Homo sapiens: one gene and its partners. The protein of the gene in region 1 purifies or fractionates together with the protein of each later gene. This does not show direct contact. Each region holds a gene or a part of one and is shown on either strand. Other genes may lie near its edges. The genes, in order: NAT16, RBM12 and METTL2B.

What was found.
Region 2: the proteins of NAT16 (region 1) and RBM12 purify together in Homo sapiens (affinity purification with mass spectrometry; 2 studies listed by BioGRID and IntAct, with this or other methods). This does not show direct contact.
Region 3: the proteins of NAT16 (region 1) and METTL2B purify together in Homo sapiens (affinity purification with mass spectrometry; 2 studies listed by BioGRID and IntAct, with this or other methods). This does not show direct contact.

What each region holds. Positions count from the first base shown.
Region 1 is NC_000007.14:101,170,186-101,177,293, reverse strand, and holds the end of NAT16 (probable N-acetyltransferase 16), read left to right. Parts: intron 1-2,482; 5' UTR 2,483-2,486; coding exon 2,487-2,798; intron 2,799-3,773; coding exon 3,774-3,998; intron 3,999-4,642; coding exon 4,643-5,215; 3' UTR 5,216-6,798; downstream 6,799-7,108. UniProt on the Homo sapiens protein: Probable N-acetyltransferase. Shows only trace activity toward L-His and no N-acetyltransferase activity toward other amino acids. The physiological substrate of this enzyme is unknown.
Region 2 is NC_000020.11:35,654,840-35,661,947, forward strand, and holds part of RBM12 (RNA-binding protein 12), read right to left. Parts: intron 4,176-7,108; 5' UTR 4,091-4,175; intron 506-4,090; 5' UTR 484-505; coding exon 1-483.
Region 3 is NC_000007.14:128,472,895-128,479,835, reverse strand, and holds the start of METTL2B (tRNA N(3)-cytidine methyltransferase METTL2B), read right to left. Parts: upstream 3,089-6,941; 5' UTR 3,071-3,088; coding exon 2,961-3,070; intron 2,755-2,960; coding exon 2,663-2,754; intron 679-2,662; coding exon 323-678; intron 1-322. UniProt on the Homo sapiens protein: S-adenosyl-L-methionine-dependent methyltransferase that mediates N(3)-methylcytidine modification of residue 32 of the tRNA anticodon loop of tRNA(Thr)(UGU) and tRNA(Arg)(CCU).

The DNA of each region.
Region 1 (7,108 bases):
GAAGCCAAGGAAACTTAACTTTTAGCCTGGCTCTGCCCAGACTGAGTCACCTCGGGCAAGGCTCTTAATCTCCTTGATTATGAAATGAATGGGTTGAACCTGATGGTCTCTAATGGCCCCAGCAGAGGATCTAAATCCTCTGAGCCTGGCTTCCTCCTCTCTGATAATTCTGGCTCCATATCCAGGTAATCTCCAGGTGTTGGAATCAGATGAGAAAGAATCAGAAAACAAAGAGGGAGATAGAACTCTTGTCTTGAAGCTTGGTTTGTATAGCAAGCATACCGCGTTTAGGCAAGCTCTGTTTATGGCTTGGAAGTGCAAACCACTCCTTGGTCCCACTGCTGGTCAACCTTCCCCAAACCTAGGTAAGACTTTTGTTAAAAAAAAAAATAAAAATTCCAGTTAAGTCAATAAGTCAATATCACCCCCACAGAATAGCTGGTCTGTGTGCCCTTGGGATGTTGGTTAATGAGGCTTAACGTAGGTTATCTGAGGTGAGCATTATCATTGGCTGAAAGAGAGAGGGGGGATTTGATTGGTTGATTTGGCTGATCTGGAAGAGACAGGCCCAGAAATAGAAGTTGCTGGGACTTGGATAGGGGGCTTTCTCTTTCATTTTGGTGGAGCTCCGACAGAACACTTTTCAAACAATTCCTAGTCCTGGAGTGGACAGAGCCCAAGTCTCCCTATGGGGAAGAGGGGCAGAAGGAAGGAAAGGGGCGGGGGCGGGGGGCATTGATTGGCTTAGAAAGAATGGTTTGACATTTTCTTCTTCTTTTTTTTTTTTTTTCTTGAGACAGAGTCTCACTCTGTTGCCCAGGCTGGAGTGCAGTGGCTCAACCTCGGCTCAGGCTCACTACAACCTCTACCTCCCGGGTTCAAGTGACTTTTGTGCCTCAGCCTCCCTAGTAGCTGGGATTACAGGTGTCCACCACCATGCTTGGCTAATTTTTGTATTTTTGGTAGAGATGGGGTTTCATCACGCTGGCCAGGCTGGTCTCGAACTCCTGACCTCAGGTGATCTACCCGCCTCGGCTGAGCCGCCATGCTAGGCTGGCTTGACATTTTCTAGTGGAGCTATCTATCTTGTTTATATTTGAATGTGTATGTCAAGAGGTGGAGGTGGGGGGACAGGGAACTGGGGCAGCAATATGGAGGATATTTGGGGTCTACACCCTCCCCCTTGGCCCTGGCTGGGATTGTAGCTGGTAGTGGCAGGAAATGGGGTGAGGGTGAGCCCTCCACTGTTCTCTGGGAACTTTCTTGTGGACAGAGGGGTGACAGTGGGAGTTTCTTTCTCATGTTGTCCTTGCAGAGGTCTTAGAGAGGTGATGGGATCCTTGAAGGAGTGTGCCTCTTTTTTTTTTTTTTTGACACAGGTTCTCTCTCTGTCACACAGGCTGGAGTGCGGTGGTGTGATCCCGGCTCACTGCAACCTTTGTCTCCTTGGCTCAAACGATCCTCCCACTTCAGCCTCAGAGCAGCTGGGACTACAGGCCCACTGCACCACCATGCCTGGCTAATTTTTTTTATAGACAGAGTCTCACTATATTGCCCAGGCTGTTCTTAAACTCCATGACTCAACCAGTCCACCTGCCTTGGCCTCCCAAAGTGCTGGGAGTACAGGCATGAGTTTCCGTGTCCAGCCTTCTTCTTCTTTTTTTTTTTTAAAACTACCCCCAAGTGCCTTTTTTCTTTTGCCTGGGTCCCTGGATCTGGGGCTGGTCTATGGGGATCTCACAGGGTTCTAAGTTTCTGACTGTTAGGGAGCATCCCATAAGAGTGGGGTGGGTAGAGCTGAGATTTCTGAAAGCTGGTGGGAAGAGGGAGGGAGCTGGGAGACCTCCACTCCCAGGGTCTGTGTGGACAGCAGAAAAGAAAGGGTGTGGGCCAGGTAGAGTGGCTCACACCTGTAATCCCAGCACTTTGGGAGTCCAAGGTAGGAGGATCTCGAACCCAGGAGTTCGAGACCAGCCTGGGCAAAGTAGTGAGATCCCTATCTGTATTAAAAAAAAAATAAGAAGAAGAAATGAAGAAAGGGGCCAATGTGGTGGCTCACACCTGTAATCCCAGCACTTTGGGAAGCTGAGGTAGGAGGATCGCCTGAAGTCAGGAATTCAAGATCAGCCTGGACAACATGGTGAAGCTCCGTCTCTACTAAAAATACAAAAATTAGCCAGGCATGGTGGCACGTACCTGTAGTCCCAGCAACTCAGGAGGTGAAGGCAGGAGAATAGTTTGAAGCGGGGAGGCAGAGGTTGCAGCGAGCCGAGATCGCGCCACTGCACTCCAGCCTGGGCGGCAGAACGAGACTCCGTCTCAAAAAATAAATAAATAAATAAGTAAATAAGTAAATAAATAAAAGAAAAGAAAAAGAAAGGCTATTTGTGTAGGAAGGGGCATTAGGACCGTTTGTGTGCAGGGGCCCAGATGTGGAAACAAAGGGGCTGATCCAGGTGCTGAATTCTCTTTTTTTCTGCAGGGTCATGAAGCTGGAAGCCAGCTGTGGCACAGCCACCTCAGAGGTCCCTAAGCCGGAAAAGAAGACTGCCCGAGATGCAGAGCCAAGCTCTGAAACCCGGCCACAGGAGGTGGAGGCCGAGCCCAGGTCGGGATCGGGGCCTGAGGCTGAGGCCGAGCCATTGGACTTCGTGGTGGCCACGGAACGGGAGTTTGAGGAAGTGCTGGCCATCTCGGGGGGCATCTACGGCGGCCTGGACTACCTTCCTAGCCGCTACCACAGCTGGCTCCGGGACCCCGACCGCACGGTGGTGCTGGCCAAGCGCAACGGAGGCGTGGTGAGCCCGGGGGCACGGCCCAGGTGACATGGGGTGAAGCCACCTGCGGGTGCGTGGATCTTAGGAAGAGGAGGATGAGAGCTTCTCCCCAGCCTTCCTCTGGAGGCTGCGGAAATAGAGCCTGCTTTGGGACCAAAGTGCAGGGCGTGCAGTGCGGATCCAGGGGCTATGTCAGTGAGGGTGGGGTGGAGGACTCCTAAAGCAGAGGAACCAGAGGGACAGGTGAGCGTTTGAAAGTTCGAGGATCCACCGGAGGAATTTCTGGGGGTAAAAGCAAAGGAGGTGGGGAGCAGGAGAGAGAGGGTAGGCTAGGGGTGGGAGCAGGAAGAGCTTAGATTTGGGCTGGGGGAGGAGCTAAGAGGAAGTGGGGCGTGGCAAACTCCCGGGGGAGGAGCCAAGGAAGGGGCGTGGTGAGCGGTCCGGAACTTGACACACTCGGAGCTGGAGCATCTCAAGAGGTGGAAGGGGCCGGGCGCGTCGGCTAACTCCTGTAACCCCAGCTCTTTGGGAGGCCGAGGCAGGAGGATCACTTGAGGCTAGGAGTTCCAGACCAGCCTGGGCAACATGCGAGACCCCTGTCTCCAAAAAATAAAAATAAATAAAAAGCCGAGAGTAGGGGTGCGTGCCTGTTGTCCCAGCTACTAGGAAGTCTTGGGGGTGTAGGGGATCGCTTGAGCCCAGGAGTTTGAGGCTGCAGTGAGCTGTGATAGCACCACTGCGCTCCAGCCTGGGTGAGGAGACCCTGTCCTAAATTTAAAATAAATAAAAATAAAAAGGTGGACGAAGCCCCGGCGAATGACTGTTCTGCCGGCTCTGTAATCTGAGGCCCAAGTGCCGTGCTACCCCAGGCCTGGCCTGGTGCCCGGGTGGTGACGCGGAGTGCTCAGCGTGTGGGAAGAGGAGAGCCCAGTGAACCGACAGCCCTGGCAGGGGCGCAGGCGGGGAGGGCCCCGCGCTAACGGCCTCGGTCCGCAGATCGCGCTGGAGTCGGTGAACGTGATCGACGCCGGGGAGACGGTGCTGGTGGAGGGGCTGCGCGTGGCGCCCTGGGAGCGCGGGAAGGGCGTGGCCGGGCTGCTGCAGCGCTTCTGCTCGCAGCTGGTCAAGAGACAGCACCCGGGGGTCAAGGTGGCACGGCTCACCCGGGACGACCAGCTGGGCCCCCGGGAGCTGAAGAAATACCGCCTAATCACCAAGCAGGTGAGAAGGACAGGGAGCTCGGATGGCTGGGCCTCTCTGCTGGGGCATATGGGGAGACCCTCCCCACCCCCAGCAGAACACGGGCTTGCTCTCTCTCTGGGCTTTACCGAGTGGCGCGGCCCATGAGCCTTGCCCTGGGACTCCCAGTCCTTACCAGACCCTTTGACCCAGGGGAAGTCAAACTCCCGACTCCCAGCCTGAAACCCTAGTCCTTACTTCCCAACTTCGGGGACCCTGCCTCCCCTAGGATCCTGCCTCTGTTCAGGGCCCCAAGCCATCTCCTCTGAGCCTTTGTCCTCCCTCTGCTCCTCCCAATCCTACTGACTGATCGGCCTCCCTGGCTTTCACGTCCCTGGAGACCCGGGGACCCGTACCCTCAGTTCCCTGGCTACTCCATACTGATCCCACCTCTTCTTGGGGATCCACGTACTGGGAGCCCGTGCCCCTGGTCCCTGTCTGGTACCCTTGAAACCCAGGCTTTCCCATACCCCACTCGGCCCGGAGCCCTCACGGTCGCTCCTCCAGAGGGACCCAGGTGGGAGCCCGTGGGCGTGAACGTGGGAGTGAAGATGCCTGCCGAGAGGCGCCGGGCTCGCCAGCCCTGCTGCGCCCCCCCTCCCCGCGCTCACTCGTGCCCCCCGCAGGGCATCCTTTTGGTCCGATTCAACGCGTCCGCGCTGCTGGCCGGGCTGGGCGCGCGGCTGGCGGCGCTGCGGACCTCTGGCACCTTCTCGCCGCTGCCCACCGAGGCCGTGTCCGAGGCAGGCGGCGACGTGGCACGCCTCCTGCTGTCACCCTCCGTGCAGCGCGACGTGCTTCCAGGCGGGACCATCATCCAGGACTGGCAGCCCTACCGGCCTAGCGAAAGCAACCTGCGCCTGCTGGCGGCCAAGGGCCTGGAGTGGCGCGTGGACAGCCGCGCGCGCCCGCGCGTGCTCACGCTGTGCACGCGCCCCTTCCCCATCCCGCACGGAGGGGACGGCACTTGGCGCTATCTCAACATCGACGCCTTCGGTAGCGACGGCGCGCAGGTGCAGAGCCAGCTGCTGTGGCACCTGCAGCGCCAGGCCCCGCGCCTCGTTGGCCTCAACGTCATGTGCCAGCTCTTCCTGGAGCCCCAGCTGTGGTCACAGCTGGCTGACTTCTGCCAGGTCGGGCTGGGACTGGAGCTGGTGAAGGGTTATACTGAACAGTACCTGCTGGAGGCCGACATCTGAGGCCTCTCCTCTGGCGGGGAGGGGGAAAAAGACCCGCCCCCTTCCGCAGTTTCCCCAGCCAGCCTCTTTCCTGCCATTTCCGACGCTGCGTCTCCTGGGAAGTCCCCTCTGACTCCTGCCCTCCTGCCCTTACCGGCGCAGGTCCCCCCACTCTGTCCCTTTTGCCCTTACTATCTTGCCTCTAGCTCCCCCAAACACCATTGCCCACTCCCTGACCTGAACTTGCGGACTATTAGGTGGGGGCTGGGGGTGGGGGCCTTGAGCTGCTGTTATCCACCCTCTGTTTTTCCAAAGAACTGGTCCCCGCACAGGCTTCAGAGTCCTTCCTTCCCTCTCCATCACCTCACCCGGGGCGTGAACTCCCCCTTTCCTGGCTTCTCCCTTCTGCCCCCTCGTGGGTGGAAGAACTCAGGAGTGTGTGGGATGCCCAGCCTCGTTCCCGAGCGCAGCCGCCCAATCCGCGTTTCTTTTCTTCCTTCTGCCCTTTCTAAAGCCCTAAAAACTGGTCCTGCATTGCCCTCCACACCCCAATCCCCTCCCCCTGCTCAAGCTTCTGGTGCCAGAGATCAGTGCCCTCTCCCCACTTCTCTCTAGCCCCTCATCCTCATCCTCGCTGGATCTCTACGACGCTTAACACCGCAGTGCCCATTTTTCTGTCCCTGTTTTCCTTCCCATCACCAGCCCAGTGTGCAATCCAGAGAGAGAGAGAGTGATACTGTAAAATGAAATGTATTTAGAATGCTCCCCCATTTGGGTCCTTGTTCATCTGGTGATGCACTTTCTGAGCCTGCCTCTCTCACTGGGGTTTCCTCCTGCTTTGCACAACTTTGCTATTTCGCAGGCTCCCCCGTGCCCCAGCTCACCCGAGCCGGGCGGGGTGGTGGTGGTGGTGGTGGTGTGTGTGTGGTGTGGTTCTAGCTGAAGAGTTTGGTACAGTGGAGGGCGGGTCCCTCAGCCTGGCATAGGGGCTGTCTCCTGGTTCCAACCAGGCCGCCTTCTAGTGCAACTGGAATTCCCACCTCCTGGTATTTCTGGACACCACTCCCTTTCTCTGGATCATTTATGCTTTTAGAACTTTGAGAGTCTTCTATTTAATTGCAAGTAGTAACAGCTGCATCTGCACAGCGCTGTCTCCAATACTGGTTCCCCACATCAAAGGCAGAGGGAGAAAACAGAAGGCTGGGAAAGATCAAAGTGACTTCTAAGTCATTCAAAGTAGCTAGGAGCCTCCCAGCGAATAGAACCCGGGTGTCCCAAGCCTAGAGCATGACCTAGAACTTCACTCTGTGGGATGATGTTAGCTTGAACTTCTTGTTGGGCAATGCGTAGGTGCTAGGAGAATGTTGACAGTGAGTTTGGGGTTCGCTGGGATGGGATCCGAGATGTGGGCAGAGGTGGACACCAGCAGGTGGAAGAATGTGGACAAGGTGGGGGGTAGGGGCAGCCGCCGCTTCGCCACTTTCCGCAGCTCTGGTTTTGCTACTGTGCTGCTCTCCTTGGGTGCATCCTGTGCCTGGCCACGCTGCCACCCTCCTTGTCACGGTGACCACGATTGTATGACAATAAAATGGACCTTTTGGCCACCCTCTGTGTCTGTTTCACTTCCCAATGGGGAGAAATGAGACACATTATCTTCCCCTTTCCCCAGCAGCCTGTATCAGAGAGGATCTCTAAGCCCTGTGGCAATGGGGCTAATGACTTCCCGGGGAGAGGGGGGAGGTGGAGAGGGGTTCTGAGGAGGGCTGCTGGCTGTGCGCCCCTACCCCACCCCTGCCAAGCGGAGGAAAGAAGCCGCTGCTCAGGACCGAGGTGGGCAGCAGCACGGCCTCCTGACTCGCCCTGGGCCTCGCTTTTCCCTGGACCTGGGAGTCGGCTGCTACCCAAATTCTGTGA
Region 2 (7,108 bases), on another chromosome or scaffold:
ATTTGGAGGAGCTGTTCCTACGCTGGCTGTGGAAAATGTCTGTATGTTTTTGTTGCTTTCATGAACAGAAGTGGTGGCAGTAACTACACTGGGTGATGGATTATTAAAGTTGGATACTGTTGTGGGCAAGTTTACCCTGCTACTCATTCCTGAGCTAGGTGGTGGTCCTGATCTACTGGCATTTGCTGGTGGTATATCTAAGTTGGCAGTTTCAAAACGCCTACGACTCAGTTCAATCATATTCTGCATTTCCGTCTTACTACTCAACAATAGTGTTACTTTTGACCCTTTAATTGTACCACCTGTGCGCATCATACCAAGCCTTGCATCTTCATCAGTGGCAAAAACGATGAAAGCCTCACCCAGTTCACCCCCTACAATATGCACGCCCCCATCAGGAATGGTCAATCCAGAGAAGAAGTGGCGAATGTCCATGGTCCCCGCCACAATTGGGAGACCTTGCAAACGGATGACCACAGCCATGCTGCGCTGAAACCACACACACCTGCAGATGAGAAAAGGCAACGGCCAGGTCAGACTCCTGTTTATCACACCAAGTTTTTAGCTACAAGAATGACCAGCTACCATATTAGGCCCTCAAATATTCCCTCAAGCTATCACAGGCAATGTCTTTAATTTAGATATTCTAAAAACTGAACATTACGTGCCATTTACAATGTAAAACGTAGACAATTTCAACTTCCAGAAGGCATTAATTTTGGAAACAGTTCAGTCCCAAGACTCAAAAAGTTCAAGAAAAAACAACTGTAGGACAGTAAAATACATATACATCATTCAGACCACTAATCATTCAGTAAGATTTAAAAGAAATGTCTAAGTCAAATCAGGAAACAAAGTTTAACAATCTATAGGGAAAAAACATGCAAAGAATATATAGAAGTTAGTATTTAAAACTGGCTTAGCATCTTCCCTATATACTTGATAATTTCATAGAATTATCAAGAGTGTGATTTTATAGAGCTCAGTCTCAAAATCCATCCAACAGAAGCAAAAAACTAGAATACTAATGAATTGTAAATAATACTTAAGACTAAAAGTAGATTCAAGTCTTAAATGAGAACTGGTTCCATTATTTTATTCATCCTAAAACTTTTCAATCTGCCTTGTACATTACAAAAAACTACATATGGAATTATTTATTATAAACAAGGTTAAGACATACTAAGAAGCCAAAAGAACTACTGAATAGGACAGCTAAAATCTGAGTTACCTTGATTCATTACCCCCAAAAGTAGAACCTGGTTATAGTCCCATTCACTGTGACTATTTTAATTAAAACTCAGGTCCAATGACTCATAACCAAATCCTCTATTTAATAAAATTTTTTAAAGTATTATTTTCCCCTAGGAGAGGGCTGACAATAAAAATATTTTTTGTTTTTGTTTTAGAACCAGAGTGTGAATTACTCAGTGGTTGTTACAGTCTTGGACCTACACAACTCCTACAGGATCTCTGTGATCTCCTTAGATCATGCCTGTTTTGACATAATCAAAAAAGAAATGTTCCCCTCAAATTTCAGTATTTCAGTTCCAAAGGCTTCTAAGAGCAAATTCAAGGGCAGCCCTTTGGAAAGTGACACAAACCGAATTATTGGGCCTGGGAAACATACTACTTTGAAATTAAGGTGGTCAATAACATAGGGTGTTTTCCAACCCATCTGAAAAGTCAACTTTTATTTATTTATTTATTTTGAGACAGAGTTTCACTCTTGTAGCCCAGGCTGCAGTGCAACGGCACGATCTCGGTTCACGGCAACCTCCACCTCCCAGGTTCAAGTAATTCTCCTGCCTCAGCCTCCCAAGTAGCTGGGATTACAGGCATGCGCCACCATGCCTGGCTAAGTGTTTGTATTTAGGAGAGATGGGATTTCACCTGACCTCAGGTGATCCACCCTCCTCAGTCTTCCAAAGTGCTGGGATTACAGGCGTGAGCCACTGCGCCCCACCTGAAAAGTCAACTTTTAAATATAAGCCCATAAAATCAGCTCATGACCCTCAGAAAGGTTATAAATTAATGAAGAGATTTGGTTTTATCACTTCTCAAGAATATTAGAAGGGGCAAGATTTTCTACTATAAGCTCTAAGAATTCTGTAACTTCATTGTCAAATATTATATAAATACTAATGCAACAAAATCTGTAATTATATCTCAATATTACAACTGCCGTATACAAACAAGAAACAAACTGCTTGGCTTTGACAGTTTTCTCACAGACACATACACAAAAATAAAAAGCCACCTTCAAATTTAATCCAGAAAAATGGACTAGCAAACAGAAAATGCTTTTTGTGAGGCCATTATAAAGCACTAGAAATTTGGGAAGTGTGGGGAAGCTTTTCATTTACAAACTTCAAGAGTCAACAAGAAAAATTAACGCTAAAAAACATCACACCAACAGTCTCTTTTCTCATTTACTATTTAGCAGCCTATAAGGAGGTTCATCAAGCAGTTTCCAAGTCATTAAATCAAATTCACATTCCTTGCTCAATCTAGAATATGTGGCTGTATGCAAAATGTGATAGCATTTCCTGTTCAACTTCAAAAAACGGTTAATCACTTTGTATAGGGGAAACATCATGGGCAATCCAGGTACTCAAAACAACTTGAGAGAGAGAGAGAGACTAGTTTGCACTGGGACAATCAAACAGAAACTTGATATAGTCCCAAGAACACAAAAATTAAACACAGGGCTAAAGTGACATACACAGTTAAGTCTTCAAGCCATTTTCTGTTAAGAGCAGGGATTTACTGAAAGTTTGTACAAGGTACACATGAGAATATGCTATTGAAAATCTGCCTCAGATTACCAGCTGGAAAGGGCTGAATATTAAACCAAAGTGGAATACAAGATTTATTCATAAAGCCATCTGATGAGAAAAATTGTTTCTAGCTTCCAAAAAATATGAAATAATATCCGCAGCCAGGTGCGGTGGCTCACACCTGTAACCCCAGCACTTTGGGAGGATGAGGTGGGTGGATCACCCGAGGTCAGGAGTTCAAGACCAGCCTGGCCAACAAGGTGAAACCCCGTCTCTACTAAAAACACAAAAAATTAGCTGGGCATGGTGGCAGGTGCCTGTAATCCCAGCTACTAGGGAGGCTGAGGCAGAAGAATCACTTGAACCCGGGAGGCAGAGATCACGCCACTGCACTCCAGCCTGGGCAACAAGAGCGAAACTCTGTCTCAAAAAGAAATAAATAAATAAAACAAATAAAAATTTAAAAAAAAATTTAAAAAAGTATCTGCTTTTCTGTTACTAAGTAACTGTTTGACAGCTAAGTCATTTCAACCTAACTTGGGCCTATCTTAGTTACTTAAACAAGAGGGTTAGATTCCACTTGCTAAGGTTCCATTTAAAGTCTAAAATTTGTACTCTAAAACATGTGACCCATTATCTATACTTAAACTCTTAGGAAATATAAATAAACATATCAATAACAAGCATCTGTATTTGTAATTAGTCTAAAATGCTACTAAGGAATAAAACTTACTGCCTATCAGGAAAATCACAAGATAAATAGATCCATATAAATGAAATTGACCCCCAAAGGAACAACTGTTCAAAGCACCCATCTACCCCACCCCTATCCCTCAGATAAACTTGTAAAAAACCACACCGGCCTGGGTGGCGGCTCATGCCTGTAATCCCAGCACTTTGGGAGGCTAAGGCAGGTGGATCACAAGGTCAGGAGTTCAAGACCAGCCTGGCCAAGAGGATAAAACCCCATCTCTACTAAAAATACAAAAAAATTAGCCGGGTATGGTGGCAGGCGCCTGTAATCCCAGCTATTCGGGAGGCTGAGGCAGAGAAGTGCTTGAACCCGGGAGGCGGAGGTTGCAGTGAGCCGAGATGGCACCACTGCACTCCAGCCTGGGCAACAGAGTCTAGCCTGGGCAACTGAGCAAGACTCCGTCTCAAAACAAAAAACAAGCAAACAAAAACACACACACACACACACACACACACACACACACACAATATAGTTGCTACATATATTTTCATATTTCTTAATAAGCTATCTCATTTTATTTTGTATAAAAACGAACTCTCTATTCAAAATCTCTTACCTGATAAAACAAGAGATGAATTTCCTTAACAAGAAGTAGAGGCCAAGTCAATCCTGTGGGCAACCAATTAAAACCAACTTTTAGACTGCAATAGAGAATAAACGGAGGCAAAAATCAATGCAGGAAACACAAAACAACACGCACAGGCCACACTGTACATTACGAAGGCGAGTCTGAAACCACCAGAGTACTTCATTAGAATGCATATCAAAAAAAAAAAAAAAAAGAAAGACACCGTAACAAAATCCCACACATGCTTTTTAGTTGGTATTGCTTTCAAATTTGAGTATCTCAAAATAATTATATATTTACAAGAGTGTCATTAACTTAGCCCAATAACGAATCCACTGAAAATTAAAACAGTCATAAAGCTCAGCTTCACAGCTAATTGCTTTGATCACTTTATAATTAAACCAGTCCAGAAAACTCCGTAACACAAGTCTATTTCCCCAGGTTCTCACCAAATTTGTGATGAAAAGGCACAAGTTCGCACAATAACAATTCTTGGACAACTTAAGATAGCAATTCAAGGGTACTCATGGAAATTACTGCAATTATTCTTTCAATATATTTTATTTTGCACAAAATAGCATCCAACATCACAAAACAAATGAAGTATGAGTTCTTGCTATAAGGACTAATTCCACTGGAGCTCAAAATATTAACAAAATATTAAGGGAAAGTGTTTTTTCCTCTGACATCACAACAGTTCTCAAAAACTTGTAAAATTTAAATAAATAAAATAAAATAAAATTTAAAAACACCCTAAAAATGCCTGACATATTAAGAGTATATCCCAAAATAAAAACAGGTCACTCATCTTTCACTGTCATTTCTTCCAAACTGGTGAGGTTATTAACAAGTCACAAGCATATATGACCAAATGTCTAGACAACTATATTCAAAGGTCATTTTTTGCTTTTTATTTTTTTTCAAAGGTCATGTTTTAATTCGGAGAGAGAAGAAATTTGCCACTGTTCAGTATTAAGATTACCTACGACTACTTTTCCAAATGATGCTCATCTTAAATTAGTATCTTCCAAGACCAAAATACAACTAATGACCTTAATATTCATCGCCAAAAAGTAAAACATATTTCAAAAATCTGTGTGATTTTCTAAAGGACAAACTATTCATCGTCTAGTCAACTACTCAAGTTGCTAAAGAATAGTGAGATGGTTTTACCACAAAAAGCTATGCAAATATGTAATCAACACAATCAAAAGTCTAGAGCATTGTATTAATCTTTTACATGTTGTAGAAATCTAGCCTCTTTTTTTTTTCTTTTTTTGAGACAGGGTATCGCTCTGTCGCCCAGGCTAGAGTGCAGTGGCGCGATCTAGGCTCATTAGGCTCATTGCAACCTCCGCCTCCCTGGGTTCAAGCTATTCTCATGCCTCAGCCTCTGGAGTAGCTGGGACTGACTACAGGCTTGCGCCACCACCCGCAGCTTATTTTTGTATTTTTAGTAGAGACAGGGGTTTCATTATGTTACCCAGGCTGGTCTCTTAACTCCTCACCTCAAGTGATCCACCCGCCTCAGCCTCCCAAAGTGCTGAGATTACAGGTGTGAGCCACCACGCCTGGCCTAGCCTAACTAAGTCTAAGGAGTTTAAAAATTCTTCATTTGAAAGCCATATCTAGTAGTTTAACAGGTCACAAAGGAAAATGTGAAACAGAAAAAAACCTGCTTCAAGTAAAGCAATGAGCAAGAGCATGAAGTACTGTAATATTTATGTACAGGTTTGACTCCAGCAGCCACATAACAGGGTAACTTTCTAGTTTCTAGAACTTGTAATAAACATCTGATCCCTACTGGAGATTCCAATTCAAAAGGTCAGGTATGGGGCCAGGGCATATGCCTGAATATAAGGTAAGAAGGTTCCTCTCAGCCTCTTCCCTTGCAAACTCAAAAGATACCGTATGTCTATCTTGAGAAGGACATATCTGGGGTCAGCCAGTTAAGCTCAAAGGGAACTCACCAGGTCTACTCTCAAAAATTTCTAAAAGGTTACCAGAAATTACCTTTAAAAGGAAGATATTTCTCATTCCACAAGGCAAGGCTGAAAGGCCCAGCTGAATTTGACAAATGCCTAGTTCAAGTTTTATGTGTACAACTTAAAGCACAAAATCAATCCAGATAGAAATTTATGATTCTCTTCTATTTCAGCAAAGAGGAATACCCACCCCACCCCATACCAAGGAAAACCATGCAGAAAGTTGATGCTACAAGTCAGAACTTCACAACCCTTGGTATTATACCTCTTCAAAAGGGAAAGGTAAATGGAAATAGAACTGAAATACTTCTGTGTTGACACCTCACTTTGTAAAAACCACAAGAATTTAACATAAGTGTCACTGTTTTCCAGGAAACTACTATTCCTGTATTCTAAATGTCAGCTAGCGACTGAATGCAGGATTTCAAAAATCCACGCCATTTACCTAAAGCTTTGCTGAACTTTAGAAGGATAAGACTAAAATAATAACTAAACAATAAAACATCTAAAATACATATTCTATCTATACATACAGCATAATGATAGGAAAGGAGAAAATGGGCCTGATTTGTCATTAAAGCCACTGATATACTTCAGAAGATCTAAAACAAGAAGCTGGCTTTAGTATGTTTTCCATTCATATTATCAGGAATTAGTCCTAACATAAAGGCTTGCTTCAACTTGACAAAATACCGGATGCATGCACAAATCACAAGTATCTGCTACAAAAATTTAACATATTATGGCAAGACAGACTTTCGTATTTACTAGCCATTCTAATCACTTGGAATTTCAGAAAAAAATGTCTGACAACAAATCTCTTCATCAAGAAGTCAAGGCACAAACTAAAACGACTATTTTCACTCTTCATCTGGTAGTAAACATCCAAAAGTGAACTTTAACTTTGTTCAGTTATCACTCTTTAATCAACAAGAACCAGGGTACAGCAGAGCTAGGTTCTTCAGATCCAAAAGAAACAAACTCTCAAATGTTCACCTCAGAGATTAGCAACAGAGAACCA
Region 3 (6,941 bases), about 27 Mb from region 1:
TTATAGCATGATCATGTTGAGCTCTTTCACCTGTATGATACAGTGTCATGTGACAGGTACAGCATGATGCTATTAATACAATTTTTGGAAGTGACATGCTATTCCCGTGTGATCTTTGTCTGTGATGACCACCAGATATCTGGTCTGCACTGAGGGCATTTTATCAGTTCAAAAATGGAGGTGATTCCAGGCTAATATAAGGGTCAAGTCTAGTCAGCATCATCCAATAGAAGTTACTTTTATTGTCAGCCTCTCTATGCTACCTCATGTGCACAAATATAATAGCTTCACATATCCCACTACCAAGACAATAAAAGGTTACCTCCAGTATTCGGTAGGTGGCTGAGGATCCAGGAAACTCATCAGCACAAATTTCCAGGTCACTAATTTTCTGAGTTACATTCTCCTCCACAGGAGGTGTCTGTGTTTTATGTTCAAGGCTCTTCGAAGAACACTTGTGCTGTTCTTCCATTATTAAACCAGGTCCATCCTCATTGTTTCTACATTCACATACTTCACTCTTGTTCTCCAAGAACCAATCCTTCAAATGATTTTGATTTTGGCTAGGTGCCAGCTCAGGGAATTCGGTAAAAAGCCAATGTCTATCCTTGAAAAACCCATTTTCGTGGATTTTGTAGAAGTCATTCCAGTATTTGTGGGCATTGATCTCATAATCAACTGTAAATATTTAAGAAAAAATTTTAAGAACCAGCTCTCAAATATTTTATTTATATCTAACGTCAATTATCCTGCTTTACCAAATGTCACTTTAATACTAAAATTATCCTCAGGTAGAGCCACAGTCCCAGAACTGAAGGCATTTCTGAGGTCATTTAGTCCTGCCATCTGGCATTATACCCAAATGCCCCATCCGTCATTATAGGAGTCTAAATTCTGTTTGAACAATCAACCAGAGAACTTACTATCTATCAAGTGTCCTCCTACATCTTTGGATGACTTTTTTTTCTTTTTGAGACAGAGTCTCGCTCTGTCACCCAGGCTGGAGTGCAGGGGCGCAATCTTGGCTCACCACAAGCTCCACCTCCCGGGTTCATGCCATTCTCCTGCCTCATCCTACTGAGTAGCTGGGACTACAGGCCCACGACCACGCCCGGCTAATTTTTTCTATTTTTTAGTACAGACGGGGTTTCACCGTGTTAGCCAGGCATGGTCTCAATCTCCTGACCTCGTGATCCACCCGCCTCAGCCTCTCAAAGTGCTGGGATTACAGGCATGAGTCATCGCGCCCAGCCAGATGACTTTTAACTATTAAAAAATCCTAGAAGTAGCCAGGTGCAGTGGCGCATGCCTGTAATCCCAGCACTTTGGGAGGCTAAGATGGGCGGATCACGAGGTCAGGAGATTGAGACCATCCTGGCCAGCATGGTGAAACCCCATCTGTACCAAAATACAAAAAATTAGCCAGGCATGGTGGTGCACACCTGTAGTCCCAGCTACTCGGGAGGCTGAGGCAGGGGAATCGCTTCAACCAGGGAGGAGGAGATTGCAGTGAGCTGAGATCGCGCCACTGCACTCCAGCCTGGTGACAGAGCGAGACTCCGCCTCCAAAAAAAAAAAAAAAAGTATGGACAGTTTAAATGAAGGCTGTTTTTAAGGTGATCATGACAGTCCCAGATTTCAGTTTACTGCTCTTGCCAGTTCAGGGGGCCTTGACTAGTGTAGTAGAAAGAATAAAAACCTAACAAATTGAGCAGGACGGTGACAATGGAAGTTGGAATCCACTAAGAAGTGTGTTAACAACTCACAACTCACCTGCTGAATCAACCAAGACTCCCTAAGAAACAGGATTTTAGTTCCACTACTGCTACTACTGACTGCTTACCTCTGGGAAAAGCACTTAATGTCCTGTGGTCCAAGTGTCTTTAACTATAAAAAGAGAATATTGAACCACATGATTTTCAAAATCCCTTTTAACTATTAACTTGCTTTGATCTAGTTGCTGTCAGACTATGCAGGGTGAATGTTTTGTAACTGGAACCTTTTTGTTGTACAGAACTCTTTCAGCAGGTACTAAATTTGTAGTGCTATCTTCAATTGTCTGGAACAATCAGTCCTAGTTTTACTATCTAGGGATATTTTGCAGTGAAATCATCAACCTCTCAAGCAGGGGCCTCCTTTTCTTTGGCCAGACTTATCTCCACTCTGCTGCATCCACCTTTCCTTGACTGAAGCCCTAAATTCTCATAACCATCACACAAGTAATAGACACACAGTCACCAGTCATTAGCCCCCCTCCCAACAATATTTAGAATCTAATCACTTAAATGAAGCTTCAATGGAAACATCTCCTCATGGAAAATGCAAATCATGTAAAAAGTACAGGTTCTAAGATGATCGCGTGACCACACAGTTGTCATTGGCTAGCCATATCAACGTGGATCTACTCAACATAATTAAAGACAAAATTACCCTCCTCCAAAGTAAAACTATATATTAAAAAAACCCTCTACGACTTAAGATTTTGTTACAATGCAGCCCTTTTCCCTCCTTGCTCATCCCCTCCCTGTCCTGCTCTACTCCTGAGATCCGCATCAGGCCAGGAATAAAGGATGTGGGCGGCCGCGGTTCCCTGGCCTCTCCGGGAGGGCGCGTTCGGCAGTACGCTGGCTGTTGATACCAACGAGAGCCCATTTAAGCGCACCTTGTTTCTCCTGGCACACCCGCTGGATACTGTTCTCCTGGACTTTTCTCTCCGCCGCCGCGGCTTGCTCTTCCGACCACTCCACATTGTCCCTGAGAAAATCAAACGGGCAGCTTAGGGGCTTCACGTCCTGGCTGCGAGCAGGGTGAGTCGCTGGCCTAGGAGTTTCTCTCCCCTTGGAGAGTGCCTCGGGTAGGGCAGCTTGACTCGTGGCCGGCGGTCAGGGGCTTTTCGGAATGCTCCGAGGCGGCGGGACAGACGGCCAGCGACAGGCCGGGCGAGGGGGCAGGGTGATTACCAGGCATTGTGGTGGAAGACGCGCGCCGGATCGCTCAGGAACCGGCTTCCGAACTGCTGCCTCTTATCGGCGAGGATTGCAGGTGCACCTTCAGGGTAGGAGCCGGCCATGACACCGGAGCCGGAAACACTTCACTTTCCGTAACGCGAGAACTTCCTGCGGGCCACGCCCTCTTTCAGAAGACGTGGAGTCTGGGCGGGAAAAAGGGTGGCGGGACAGGGCGGTCCTGGAGTCTGGTCCGGGTGGCGCTCGGGAGCTGTCGTTTGGGGCTTTCCCAGGGTTGGCGAAGGGCTCTCTAGGGAAGGGGACCAGGCAGGGGGAAATTCTCCCCGGAGGAGTCGTATCTCATTGATGAGGTGCTGATGGACGTGCAGGTTAGGCAGAAAGTGGGAGACATTCCACTTGAGGCCCAGTTCATTGCTGGGATCCTCTTAACAGGTTCCCCAGCTTCCCTCAAGTTGTAAAACAGGAATAATCTTGAATCATTATAAGAGTTGAGGCTACCTAGTTCCACTGCGGAGCCGATGTCCAGAACTGAAGAAGGTAGCAAGCAGCGGAAAGAAACAGGGCAATTTCCAGCTTCTATAGTCAGCTCTTCATAGTGTGGGTGTATATGTATACACAGTGTGTATATATATTTTGGTTGGGGTGGGGGAGATGGATATATGAAATTAGAGAACACGAGGCTTAGCAAATCAAATGGAATATCCAAGGACAATTTTTTTTTAATTATAACCATCTAACCTTTTTGAATCATCCATATTATATTTATTATAATTATCCTTATTAGCACAATTAAGATTGTAATACACACATACAGTTTGTCATAGTAATACATTTCAGCCTTACATTTCTATTTCTAGATCTAATACAAATAGACTCTCAAAAGAATCTAGAAGAAAGTATGTTATAGACATAAGGTTATTTGAGAAGACTTCCAAGAGAAGCATGATGAATACCACTTGGAAAAGAAGGAAAGGGCAGAGACCAAACAAGGACCAGCCCAATATCTCTTGGACTTTATTTAATGTCATAATGTCAGAATAAAGGGAAAGATGAATTTTTTTAAAAAAGGAAAGGGTTAGTGCAGTGCTAGACATAGCACATTGGTAATTAGTACTTTTTTTTTTTTTTTTTTGAGACGGAGTCTTGCTCTGTTTCCCAGGCTGGAGTGCAGTAGCTGGATCTCAGCTCGTTATAACCTCCATGTCCTGGGCTCAGGTGATTCTCCTGCCTCAGCCTCCTGAGTAGCCGGGATTACAGGTGCGCGCTACCACACTCGGCTAATTTTTGTATTTTTAGTAGAGATGGGGTTTCACCATGTTGCCTGGGCTGGTCCTGAACTCCTGACCTCAAATGATCTGCCCACCTCGGTCTCCCAAAGTGTTGGGATTACAGGTGTGAGCCACCGTGCCCAGCCAGTAATTGTTTATTCCATTGTAAATTCTTTCTGTAGGTAAAACTACAGGGAGCAATGAATGATTCTATACTTTTCCTCCAAAGAAATGGGAACAAGCTCTAAGCCTCTCTAATCAGGAAGAAAAATACACAAGTTAATCAAAAAGATAGTAAAGAAGTTGTACTTCATTTGAAGACAATATGCTTTTGCCATTCTTGTGGTCTTTGGAAACATTTTGAACACAAGCTCCATACCCAGAAACAAGTACAAGGAATTTTTATCTTTTCTCAAGGCCAGCTGTTTGCAGATATGGTGGTTGATTTACATTTATTTCTGGCATCTTGTTTTCTCATCTGTGGGCTTTTATTCTCCCCTCACTAAAAGCTGTTAGTGTTCCCAATCAACAGTCCCACTGGATATTTTCTTGCAGACAGCTCATTGTCTTCACTTGAATTTACTATATTAGTTCCAATGGAGACATTTTAAATGTCAAACAGCTTTGGCCTTTTTTCTATGAAATGTGCTAAAGTATCCTAAACTTAATTTTATTTTTTATTTTTATTTATTTATTTATTTATTTATTTTTGAGACGGAGTCTCGCACTGTCTCCCAGGCTGGAGTGTAGTGGCGTGATCTCGGCTCACTGCAAGCTCCCTACTTCCCGGGTTCACGCCATTCTCCTGCCTCAGCCTCCCGAGTAGCTGGGACTACAGGCACCCGCCACCATGCCCGGCTAATTTTTTGTATTTTTAGTAGAGATGGGTTTTCACCATGTTGGCCAGGATGGTCTCAATCTCCTGACCTCATGATCCGCCCACCTTGGCCTCCCAAAGTGCTGGGATTACAGGAGTGAGCCACCGCGCCCGGCCTAAACTTAATTTTATACAATTATATTTGATTGGCCTGTAAAACCTATTTTTCGAAGCACCTAAAATAATTTTGCATAAGTTTGACATGGCTGTGAGTTCTCTGGTGTCAGACTTTATACTGGATTGTAGCTTCAGAAACGCCACGTTTCAGAGGAACTAAGGGTCCCTCTGGTGGTAAGTAAGGAGAACTCTTATAGCTCAGTGGGTGGCATGGGTTTAATGCTTGTAAAGGTTAAAAACTCTCATTCTGGATTATTGCCTTAGGTTGTTAGCCAAGGACAAGGGTAGTTAATTGTTTTTTTTGTTTTTTTTTTGTTTTTTGGTTTTTGTTTTTTGAGACGAAGTCTTGCTCTGTCGCCCAGGCTGGAGTGCAGTGGCATGATCTCGGTTCACTGCAAGCTCCACCTCCCGGGCTCAAGCCAGTCTCCTGCTTCAGCCTCCAGAGTAGCTGAGATTACAGGCCACCGCCACCACACCCGACTAATTTTTGTATTTTAGTAGAGACGGGTTTCACAATGTTGGCCAGGCTGGTCTTGAACTCCTGACCTCAAATGATCCGCCTGCCTCAGCCTCCCAAAGTGCTGGGATTACAGGCATTAGCCACCCCACCCGGCCTTTCTTCTCCTTTTTTTCTTTGAGATAGGGCATCACTCTGTCACGCAGGCTGGAGTACAGTGGCACGATCACAGCTCACTGCAACCTCTGCCTCCCAGGCTCAAGTGATTCTCCCACATCAGCCAACAGAGAAGCTGGGACTAGAGGTTTGTGCCACCATACCCGGATAATTTTTGCATTTTTTGTGGAGACAGTGTTTTGCCATGTTGCCCAGGCTGGCCTCGAACTCCTGGTCTTGAGCAATCCTTCTGCCTCGGCCTCCCCAAGTGCTGGGATTACAGACATGAGCCACTGCACCTGGCCTGTGTTTTCTTATTGCAAAATAAATTTTTTATTATAGAACGTTTAGAAGATATCGATAAAACAAAAGAAAATACTTCTTCCCACCATTAATTTGACTCATTAATGCTTTGGCTTATATCATCCTAGTGCTTTCTAATTTAGTTATGTAAGTGACTTTACATTAAAATAGTTTCAGAACAAAATGCTTTGTGCTTTTTTTTTTAAACAATTACATTCATCTGGCCGGGCACGGTGGCTCACACCTGTAATCCCAGCACTTTGGGAGACCAAGGCGGGTGGATCACGAGGTCAGGAGTTCGAGACCAGCCAGACCAAGATGGTGAAACCCCCATCTCTACTAAAAATACAAAAATTAGGCTGGGTGTGGTGGCTCACGCCTGTAATCCCAGCACTTTGGGAGGCCGAGGTGGGCGGATCACGAGGTCAGGAGATCGAGACCATCCTGGCCAACATGGTGAAACCCCATCTCTACTAAAATACAAAAAATTAGCCAGGCGTGGTGGCACGCGCCTGTAGTCCCAGCTACTTAGGAGGCTGAGGCAGGAGAATCACTTGAACCTGGGTGTTGGAGGTTGTAGTGAGCCGAGACTGTGTCACTGCACTTCAGCTTGGGCGACAGAGCGAGACTCCTCACACACACACACACAAATAATAAATAAATAAATGATAAATAAATAAAATTAGCCGGGCACGGTGGTGGGTGCCTGTAATCCCAGCTACTCGGGAGGCTGAGGCAGGAGAATCGCTTGAACTCAGGAGTCGGAGGTTGCAGTGGGCTTAGATCGTGCCACTGCA